2 separate regions of the Homo sapiens genome follow, and region 1 is linked to region 2. Evidence: fine-mapped expression QTL. A gene starts in region 2. The other region holds a variant in brackets. All regions are shown on one strand. Distances are between the middles of the regions.

Region 1 (5,385 bases), 150 kb before region 2:
ACCTGGCAGATAATCTGCCTGTAGCAGGACTGACACTCTTGCCTGTGACATCTTCTGAATATAATAAGATCCTGGGCCATAAGTCACCCACAATAAGATTTCGAATTGTCAGCAGAGTGAAGTTCAGTGTTTGCCTGAGATCTGGTCCTGAAATGTAGTCTATCTGAAAGGTAGTCATAGCTCCCTCAAGAGGGTTGGGAGAGATTCATAAATTTTCATTCTGTTGTTCCCTGACGTTATTCCACACATGTAAATTTTTAAAGCATACTCTGTTAATAGAACAGGAAGGAGATAAAAGTGAAACTCAGAAAAGTGGATGGCAAGAATTCTGCGAAAATTTAATTATTGCCATCCACAAAAGTAATAGGTAATTCTTGAATTTTAAAAATTAAATGGTTACTTGATTTCACATATATGTCTGTGTTAGGAGATGAGACAGACCAGGAATCTGAAAAAAATAATTCTAATCTGCATGTGCATATGCATGTGTCTTTGTGTAATAATTTATAATGTGCAGACACCAAGTCTCATAGAATTCTATCTCTATGCAATAGGAGGAAGAAACTGAGACCATTTTTATTTTAACATTCATTCTTCATTATTTCCCTAGGGCATTTTTTATTTCAGATGGTTCATTCTTTTCAAAGCCCATAAGTCTCCTTAGAAAAAATGTTCACCTTGGGAAAGTAGAGACTCCACACTGAATCTTGTGCGGCTCTTTTCCTGGCCATGGAATATTTAAAATGAGCGCAGAGGAGGGATGAGTGTTTTGCATTTTATTGCCTTATGCTCTGCATTTCAAGGATAATCCAAATATCTAAAATGTGTTTGCAGTAAAGCACCCCTTCCTGCTTGCAGTGTCCTTGAATACCACTGAATGTGTCATCACTCTTCTAATATCAGTAGCTGAGAATAAATCTAACCACCATGAGGCTGTAAAACATAAGTGTTCCCCATAGTAATACTAAGATAAATGCAGAGTCATATCAGTAATACTGCCCTGGAGGTAGAACTTTCTGCTGGAGCTTATCATGTGTTTAATGAAAGATGCAATCAGACAAATTAAACGCCATATATTTTATTCATATTCATGCAACTGTTCTTTTAATCATGCCCTTCCATGAAAGGCCAAGTTGAACCACTTCTGTTTCTAGTCTACTCCACTCACCCTGCCCAACCCTCCTCTTATAAACAAGAACACAGGCAGCCCCCTGGGAAAGGGCTAAGACAAATGGAGCACAGCTGCTGCTCTGGAGAAGGGGGAAATTGACTGTTGTTGTATCAGATCACCACTAGTCTTATTTTTCTCAGTCAGCCATAAGCATCCTGTGTCTCTTTAATCTAGAGGCAGCTCAGAGGCCTGGGGAGGGAGAATGCAGGGCAGACAGGGCTTGGCACACAGACAGGCTGGCCCTATTGTCAGCAAAAGGGAGGTCTAAATTTCCAAAAAGATCTTTAGCAGAAAACAAATAGAACACAAGCATCAGTAGATTTACTTACAGAGTACAGCTCATTAAGTCTCCTCTACCCAGCTAATTATAGTCTAGCTTTGCCCCTTCCCTCACTTCATTCAGATTGGGAAGGTATGGGAAATAAACTGAATTCATTTGGCACCTCATTACTGAGTATGGTTCTCTCTGGGTATAGGTGTTTTGTTCTAAGTGTGTTTCTCTTGACGACAGTGTGTAGTTAGAATTGGCTTTGTGGCTCAATAGGAGTCTGTTTCTTTTCATAGGAAAATTCAGACCTTTATTGACATGACAGAAATGTTTGCTTTTAGTTCCATCACCATATTTTATGTTATGACTTCTGTTTTTGTTATGTCAAAAATATTTTAGTGTGTATTTTTTCCTAATGATTAACTTTGTCCAATAAACTGAATCCTCTCTTTTTTAAAGTACGTATACTGACTCCCTATTATGAGCTAGAGGTGAATTTAAGACATGTCCATTTTAACCCTCCTCACTCCTTCGCCTCTACTACCTAAATTTAAGTTAATTATGCTTTTTTAGTGTTTATCTTTACATTTCACAGCTTTATTTCTTGCTTTTCCATTTTAAATGTCTTTGGATCCCTTGGCTACGAGAGATCAGCCTGTTTACAAAATCTGCCCTTACCGCTCCCTTCTTTGCCAAAAATTATGATTATAATCATTTCTATATGGTGGGGGATGAAGACATTTACATTCTGGTCTACAATAAAAAATTACTATTTTTATTTCAAATCCTAAAGTTAAATGGATTTAATGATCACACCCATGCCTTTTACCTTGGAAAGCTAAAGCTTGTTCTCTTCCACTTTTTAAGGAACTGAGGAAATGTATATTCATTGCATGTTTTTAAAAGTTTGTCTTCGGATTTTATACATGATCTGTATTTTGTGGCTGGGTACGTAAATCTCAGTTTACACTCATTCTTTGAAAACTTTATAGTCATTGCTTTGCTATTTTGGGAACTGTTAGCAAATTCTTTTAAGTATCAGGATACACTTATCCAGCAATTGACCCAGAAATTCCACCCCTAGATATTTGGCCAGGAAAAATACCAACATATTCCCATAGAAATATTTGAATATGAGTGTTCATAAAAGCTATATTCACAACAGCCAAAGGCTGGTGATAATTCAAATTCATATCAGAAGGAAAATGGATGAATAGGTCATGGTGTATTTATACAATAGAATATTACTGAGCAATTAAAAGAAACCACTGACACACATGTCAACATGAATGAATTTTGTAGACAGCATATGGAGCAAGAGAAGGCAGATATAACAGTGGTCAAACATAGGTTTTGATATTTTCCTGCAGGAAGAATACTGCACTAAGCCCTAGTGTGTAACCAGCTAGAAATGTAACTTGTGAAACTCAAGCCTTTCTAGGCTTTGACTTTGCATCTAAAAAAGGAGAAGTTTAGATGAAATTATTT[C/T]CAGCTTTCTTAGGGTTCTAAAATCCAGAGACATTAGTCATTTATAGTCTGCAGTAACACAGCTAAGAACTTTGAAATTCACATAAAAGAACATTAATCAAGCGTTCCATCCCTTAAAGTGTATGAGTTGTAATCTCTAATAACCTTCCAGTTTTAACACAATGGTTTCTAAAACATTGTGAGGAATTGCTACATACCCTAAAAATGAAGAATGCAGGCCTGAGTGAATAAGATCAAGTTATATCAGATTTACTAATCTATTTCATTACTCATTGCTTATATATCATTTCCTCTTCTCTACTAATGGTCAAGTTTTTCTTATTAATTCATCAAGTATGTATTGAATGTCTATCTTAGAACTGTATGCAGGTCCATAAATTTGTTTTATTATTGGTTAGGGAATTGACTATTATGTTTGGGTGTTTTTCTTTCCTTAATACAATAAAACAAATTGAAAGGTTTCATTCTCTCTTTAAAAATTAACTTAAAGTAACTTCTGATTAATATGTTTTCTCCACTTGCTGAGGTTTTCTTTTCTCCAGTGAGGTCTCTGTTCATAAACAAAATTGGGACTCACGAAAGATGTAGCTCTTCAAGGAAAGAAAAGAGAGTAGCAACTATCCCTAACAATTTTAATTATTTCTAGGCCTTAAAAAAGTACTATTTAAAGCTCTAATTTAGGTATAATTTACGGCTACTTAGAAAAGTACATTTGTTTGATTCCAATAGTATTCCAGTGTAGTCTAGTTGGTCTAAAAAATCCTAGATTTTAGTGCTGCTGCCATTCTCTAAAAAACTTAGATATATAGTTGAATTTTGTTTTTTTTTTTTCACTGCTAGTTAGACAACAGCAATCCCAACATTCTATGTTTGTCAGACTCTAGAAACTAAACCTCACATAAGGCAAGAAATAGAAATCACCATCCCAAATCTCAAGCTAGTCCAACAGAGAAGTTTATAAATGATTTTAACTCTGATCATGAGGGCATTGTTTATTAACCTGTCTAGGACCTGTTTAAGGGTTATAGGAGGGTCCTCTTTATTCCCAGTGAAGGCAATTGTGAGGTAAAATGAGAGTATCAGAGTTCTCCATTCCTGGAGTGGACTAATTTTTCAGAGCTGATCTCTAAATCCTTTACAAAATATTCAAAAGCCTTTTGGTGGGAGCCTTTTTGTCTAACAAAAGTACACGCTGTGACATTTGGGCATCTGCTCTGCAGCTTTGGCTACAGCTAGGGGTGACTTACTATACTCATGTGAAATTTCATCCGCACCTGCTGGATGTCCTGTAACAGGTGGCTGTTTCCTATGGATGGAGACCTTATCTTATACTCGGCATTTCCTATAGATCCTACCCAGTGGCTTGTATACCACAGGTAGCCATTAATTACTTGGTTAACCGACATTTCCTGCTAACTACTGTGTTTCCTGTAAACATAAACTTTAATTAACCCCTTTCTTAAAGATTTTTCTCAAAATAAAGAAAATATTATAAGTACCTTTCTGGGAAATATTTAAGTAAGAATATAGAATTTCATGTCTGAAATAATTAGTGTTAAGCCCTACTTGGATTGAAGACAATAACAGTAAAATAATTGCATGTTTGTTTCCAATCCTTCATTCCTTCCCATATTCTTGCCCTTTGCCCCATGACTTGGAGATTCCTTCAATGAGGGGTGGGGGATATATCCCCATCCCACTGAAGTCGTGGGAACAGTGTTTTATGACAATAACCGACTTATTCAGGCAAGGACACAGAAAATAAGACTGTCTTCCTGAAGATGATAACAGAAATCCTTCTCAGGTATAGTTCACAGATCAAGCAGATGAAGAGATTTTTAGTAGGTGATAAAGGCATTTTCACACTGCCATCGTGTTAAGTATTCATTTTCATTAAAGAGCAAGTGGTTACTTGACACCTTCTGAGATCTCCTAGTTGTTTAGTACATTTGAAAACATTGAAAAAGCATCTGTGCTCGTGTTTAAGATATATGCATTCTATTGTATCTCCCAATGAAGATAAAAAGCCACATGGTCCACCTTTGTAGACTACAAAAGCATGTCCCAGGCTCAGAGAAATCCTCATGAGTCATCTGACCATTCCAGTTGCAGGGCAGACACAATCTTCAAAGAAGACACATGTAAGTGCAACAAATAATACCTGAAAGGACTTTCCTATCATTTGGACACTCTAGGATAATATGTGTATGAGAGAGAGAAAGGAAGGGTATAGATAGGCTGACTTTTAACAAGAGGATGTACACAATATTTAGCACAGTTTAAGGAACAGTCCTGGAGAATGCTGGTGGCAGAGGCAAAAAGGAATATAGAACAAATTGAAAAGCAACCATTGACAATCAATAATATGTAGACAAAAAAGAAAGAAAAGTATCTGACTTCCAGGCCAGGGTAGAGACAGCCCATGAGCTTTCATTCTCTCAAGACCGAAGGCAAAACA
Region 2 (5,385 bases):
TGCTAGTTCCCCTAACATTCCATCCTTCTCTTTCCTCTCACCCAAAAGGCGCATCACTAAGAATCTTATGTTTATTGTTTCTTTTGTCTCATTTTATTGTAACTATTTTTCTAAAGAATACACAAACATATATCTAGTACTGTTCTTTTAATTGTATAAAAATGTCAGACTCTGTATCGTTTTTGGAACTTCTGTCCATTAACATTGTATTGCTAAAATAAATTCATATTGTTACTTGCCACTATATTGTACTAATTTTTACTCCTATATAATATTAAATTAGTGAATATACTACAGTTTATTTTTATACTGTTTTTGGATATTTTGATTGATTCAACGTTTTGTTAATATGAATAGTGTCACTATAAACATTTTTTACATATCTTCTGTTGTACATGTGCAAAAATTTCTCTTAGTTTTATACCTTATCATGGAAGTGCTAGAGTTTGCAAATATTCAATTTTAGTGAAAAAAAGTGTCAAATTTTTCCAAAGTGGTTGCTCTAATCTGTAACATGTAAAAGAGCCAATAGATTCACATTTGGTATTATAAGATTTTTAGGCATTTGGAATCCAGTGGGGGTAAAATGGTTCTATATTATTATCTTAATAAATATTATTAAAAAATAGAAACTTTCCTCCATTTCTAATTTGGTCAGATAAACTGTCTATTTCAAACTAATTACAAAACTATTTACGTCCTACTTTGAGCTAATTTTTTCTAACTCTTGTGTCATTCCATGATATGGTCATGGTCATGGTCAGTACTCTCATATAGTCGTTATGGCCAATGTGTTCTCTGCTATAATCCCACTCCCCTAGACAGAATGTCAGGGAGTGAGATCATGTATTTACTTAAGCTTTCCAGCTATTCATTCTTTCTTACTGTAGACACCTCATCTCATCCCAAACGATTTTTAAAGCTATCTAAGAAATTTCCATTGACTACTTAAGTTTGAAAAAGATTTTATTAAAAATATTGCACTACATGGACACATTTACAAACACAGTCATAAGATTGCAATGGTCTATAGAGAGCTGGCCCAAGTGACTAAGTATTTTTTAAAAACCATTCAATTTGATTTCTGGATTTTCATGTTTCTTTCTTATAAGACACTAAGTTACCTAATTTAAACGCAAAGCCACGTTTAAGGTGATTCTCAGACATCTGAAGGAAGGACTAAGGAATGTTCTTTAAATTGGGAAATAGGGCAGGAGAGAAATCCTAGTGCAAAGCTCCATACTCAGCAAAAGCAAGGTAAGTATGATGATGACTCATAGGCTTACTGTTGTTTGTTAAGATACATGGAATTTCCAGGAGGAAAGAAGAATGAGAGTTATGGTAAAAATAAGATGGAAGCATACAGATGTGATCCTGAAACCTTCCCTCCCACCCCTCATCAACCTGAATGCAGTAAAACAAAGTGAGCTTATATGCATTATCCATGGAATGGCAACTTTCATTCTGATTAAAGATATTTAAAAGCATCAGACATCTCTAAGAGGGCTTAGCTGAAACTCTCTATGTATTTCTGATGGCAACGTATTTGGCCATTATGAACCAAGATAGAATGTACGTTTTCTAAACTGATACTGAATTGTCTAAGTTGCTAACAAGAAATCCTTTCATAACAGTACAGTTTTTAACCTTTACTTCTTTATTCATCTTTAATTCCTTGCCACTTCCCACTGAGTTGAAATGTTTATATTAAAACAAAACACCCACTGGAATTCTAAAGAAATTGGCTCACCCATCTTTCAAATTACAAGATATTTTTTGACAGTATACAATATTCATTATAATGGAATAAACATTTTAATTTCTTAAGGAACTCTAATTTTCCTTAAAGGAGATGTTTACAACTTACTATTATAAATGCTGCCACTCAATCATAGGAGAAAATGATACTAAAATAGTTCAAGGCTAAAATCACACATAGGGCAGTTGTTCTCGAATATTTATAAGGCCACGAACTCATTTATGTATAACCTATAAACTTGAAGAATTTTTGAACCAATACAGTGGCAAGGAAAGCTAACAACCTAACTGTTAAGATCTATGGTCATTATTTTTCATTTAGTCCTAGAAATACATTTCCTTTCTGTAATGAATCAATATGGTCTAACTCAAAGAGAAACACGTGGAAGTGAAAAATAAATTTCTAAAGCAAGTGCTGATGGAAGAAGCAGAATTTCCCATTTAAAATACCCAAACAACTCCAAATTCTTTAGTAGTTAGGACTCCTGAAATCTCTTGACATAATAGAGAAGCAAAGACCCATAGAGAGATATGCGGTTAAATAGTGCTGCCTCTGGTGGCAAAAGCAGTTGCTAAGTTGTTTCACAACATATTTTTCCCCCACAGGCACAGGCCCCCCAAACACTGGAGCCGTCTACGAATTATTCTGACGCTAACTCCACAGCTCCGGACAGAAACACAATAGACGGGCGTGGTCTTATAATCATAAGCCAGTTCCTTTCTCAAGTCCTTCCTGCCTATGTTCGCTTACGTGTTATGGGTTCTGCGGTCCTGATGAAACTCCCTGAACGGAGAAAAACCACACACTTCATCCCAGTGGCGAATTTCTCCTCTTGCTCTAAGCAGGGTGTTTGACCTTCTAGTCGACTGCGTCCCCTGTACCCGGCGCCAGCTGTGTTCCTGACCCCAGAATAACTCAGGGCTGCACCGGGCCTGGCAGCGCTCCGCACACATTTCCTGTCGCGGCCTAAGGGAAACTGTTGGCCGCTGGGCCCGCGGGGGGATTCTTGGCAGTTGGGGGGTCCGTCGGGAGCGAGGGCGGAGGGGAAGGGAGGGGGAACCGGGTTGGGGAAGCCAGCTGTAGAGGGCGGTGACCGCGCTCCAGACACAGCTCTGCGTCCTCGAGCGGGACAGATCCAAGTTGGGAGCAGCTCTGCGTGCGGGGCCTCAGAGAATGAGGCCGGCGTTCGCCCTGTGCCTCCTCTGGCAGGCGCTCTGGCCCGGGCCGGGCGGCGGCGAACACCCCACTGCCGACCGTGCTGGCTGCTCGGCCTCGGGGGCCTGCTACAGCCTGCACCACGCTACCATGAAGCGGCAGGCGGCCGAGGAGGCCTGCATCCTGCGAGGTGGGGCGCTCAGCACCGTGCGTGCGGGCGCCGAGCTGCGCGCTGTGCTCGCGCTCCTGCGGGCAGGCCCAGGGCCCGGAGGGGGCTCCAAAGACCTGCTGTTCTGGGTCGCACTGGAGCGCAGGCGTTCCCACTGCACCCTGGAGAACGAGCCTTTGCGGGGTTTCTCCTGGCTGTCCTCCGACCCCGGCGGTCTCGAAAGCGACACGCTGCAGTGGGTGGAGGAGCCCCAACGCTCCTGCACCGCGCGGAGATGCGCGGTACTCCAGGCCACCGGTGGGGTCGAGCCCGCAGGCTGGAAGGAGATGCGATGCCACCTGCGCGCCAACGGCTACCTGTGCAAGTACCAGTTTGAGGTCTTGTGTCCTGCGCCGCGCCCCGGGGCCGCCTCTAACTTGAGCTATCGCGCGCCCTTCCAGCTGCACAGCGCCGCTCTGGACTTCAGTCCACCTGGGACCGAGGTGAGTGCGCTCTGCCGGGGACAGCTCCCGATCTCAGTTACTTGCATCGCGGACGAAATCGGCGCTCGCTGGGACAAACTCTCGGGCGATGTGTTGTGTCCCTGCCCCGGGAGGTACCTCCGTGCTGGCAAATGCGCAGAGCTCCCTAACTGCCTAGACGACTTGGGAGGCTTTGCCTGCGAATGTGCTACGGGCTTCGAGCTGGGGAAGGACGGCCGCTCTTGTGTGACCAGTGGGGAAGGACAGCCGACCCTTGGGGGGACCGGGGTGCCCACCAGGCGCCCGCCGGCCACTGCAACCAGCCCCGTGCCGCAGAGAACATGGCCAATCAGGGTCGACGAGAAGCTGGGAGAGACACCACTTGTCCCTGAACAAGACAATTCAGTAACATCTATTCCTGAGATTCCTCGATGGGGATCACAGAGCACGATGTCTACCCTTCAAATGTCCCTTCAAGCCGAGTCAAAGGCCACTATCACCCCATCAGGGAGCGTGATTTCCAAGTTTAATTCTACGACTTCCTCTGCCACTCCTCAGGCTTTCGACTCCTCCTCTGCCGTGGTCTTCATATTTGTGAGCACAGCAGTAGTAGTGTTGGTGATCTTGACCATGACAGTACTGGGGCTTGTCAAGCTCTGCTTTCACGAAAGCCCCTCTTCCCAGCCAAGGAAGGAGTCTATGGGCCCGCCGGGCCTGGAGAGTGATCCTGAGCCCGCTGCTTTGGGCTCCAGTTCTGCACATTGCACAAACAATGGGGTGAAAGTCGGGGACTGTGATCTGCGGGACAGAGCAGAGGGTGCCTTGCTGGCGGAGTCCCCTCTTGGCTCTAGTGATGCATAGGGAAACAGGGGACATGGGCACTCCTGTGAACAGTTTTTCACTTTTGATGAAACGGGGAACCAAGAGGAACTTACTTGTGTAACTGACAATTTCTGCAGAAATCCCCCTTCCTCTAAATTCCCTTTACTCCACTGAGGAGCTAAATCAGAACTGCACACTCCTTCCCTGATGATAGAGGAAGTGGAAGTGCCTTTAGGATGGTGATACTGGGGGACCGGGTAGTGCTGGGGAGAGATATTTTCTTATGTTTATTCGGAGAATTTGGAGAAGTGATTGAACTTTTCAAGACATTGGAAACAAATAGAACACAATATAATTTACATTAAAAAATAATTTCTACCAAAATGGAAAGGAAATGTTCTATGTTGTTCAGGCTAGGAGTATATTGGTTCGAAATCCCAGGGAAAAAAATAAAAATAAAAAATTAAAGGATTGTTGATAACCCAGACTCAAATATCATTGCCTTCCTCCAGGAGTAATTAGGAACAGCTGAGGGCATGCTGGGAGTAAGCAGCAAGAGTGCATTCTGCTTTTAGATTGAGGGAGAGGTCCTTAAGTTCCTCGAATGAGACACAGATCTTTAAGAACTAGTAACTTTTTCATTGATTCTTTTATCCTTTCTTTTCAAAGTCACTGCTACTTGTGTGCTTTGCTATAAATCGAAAGTGTAGTGTTGCCAGAATTGCTGGCTCTGGAAGAAAATTACAGTTGACCACCAGTTCAAGTGTTTACTTTATGTCCATGCCCAAGGAAAACACATAATTTGCGTTTTCCCTTTCCAGTGTTTGTGCTTTCCAGCGTAATGACCTCCCCAAGCAAATAGCCCTCTCCTGAACATCAAGATGCTCATCCTCATCTTCAATTATGGTGATGTTAATTCTCAATTAAAATGTTAATGCTAAGTATTGATTTGCAATCTTCTGGTTGCATCAAAGAAAAAGTAAGCTGGTTTTCCTCCAAAGTTGCTAAGTTCTTGTGCA

Evidence for each region. PIP is the estimated chance that this variant, and not a neighbour inherited with it, causes the effect. A credible set is the group of variants that fine-mapping cannot tell apart.
Region 1: its variant is the best candidate, but not a certain one, in a credible set for the expression of CLEC14A in fibroblasts (GTEx, PIP 0.85).

Annotation. Positions count from the first base shown.
Region 1 is chr14:38,401,933-38,407,317 of GRCh38, reverse strand. No RefSeq gene overlaps it. Among named protein-coding and RNA genes, the nearest start is that of CLEC14A, 150 kb to the right of the region's middle. The variant C/T (reference allele first, on the strand shown) is at 2,928.
Region 2 is chr14:38,253,570-38,258,954 of GRCh38, reverse strand. CLEC14A (C-type lectin domain containing 14A) reads left to right here and starts at 2,862. Exons shown (of 1, transcript NM_175060.3): 1 at 2,862-4,955. The coding sequence starts at 2,933. The coding sequence ends at 4,405. LOC112268136 (a long non-coding RNA gene) reads right to left here and starts at 2,910. Exons shown (of 5, transcript NR_169588.1): 1 at 2,510-2,910. RefSeq lists an enhancer at 3,053-3,680.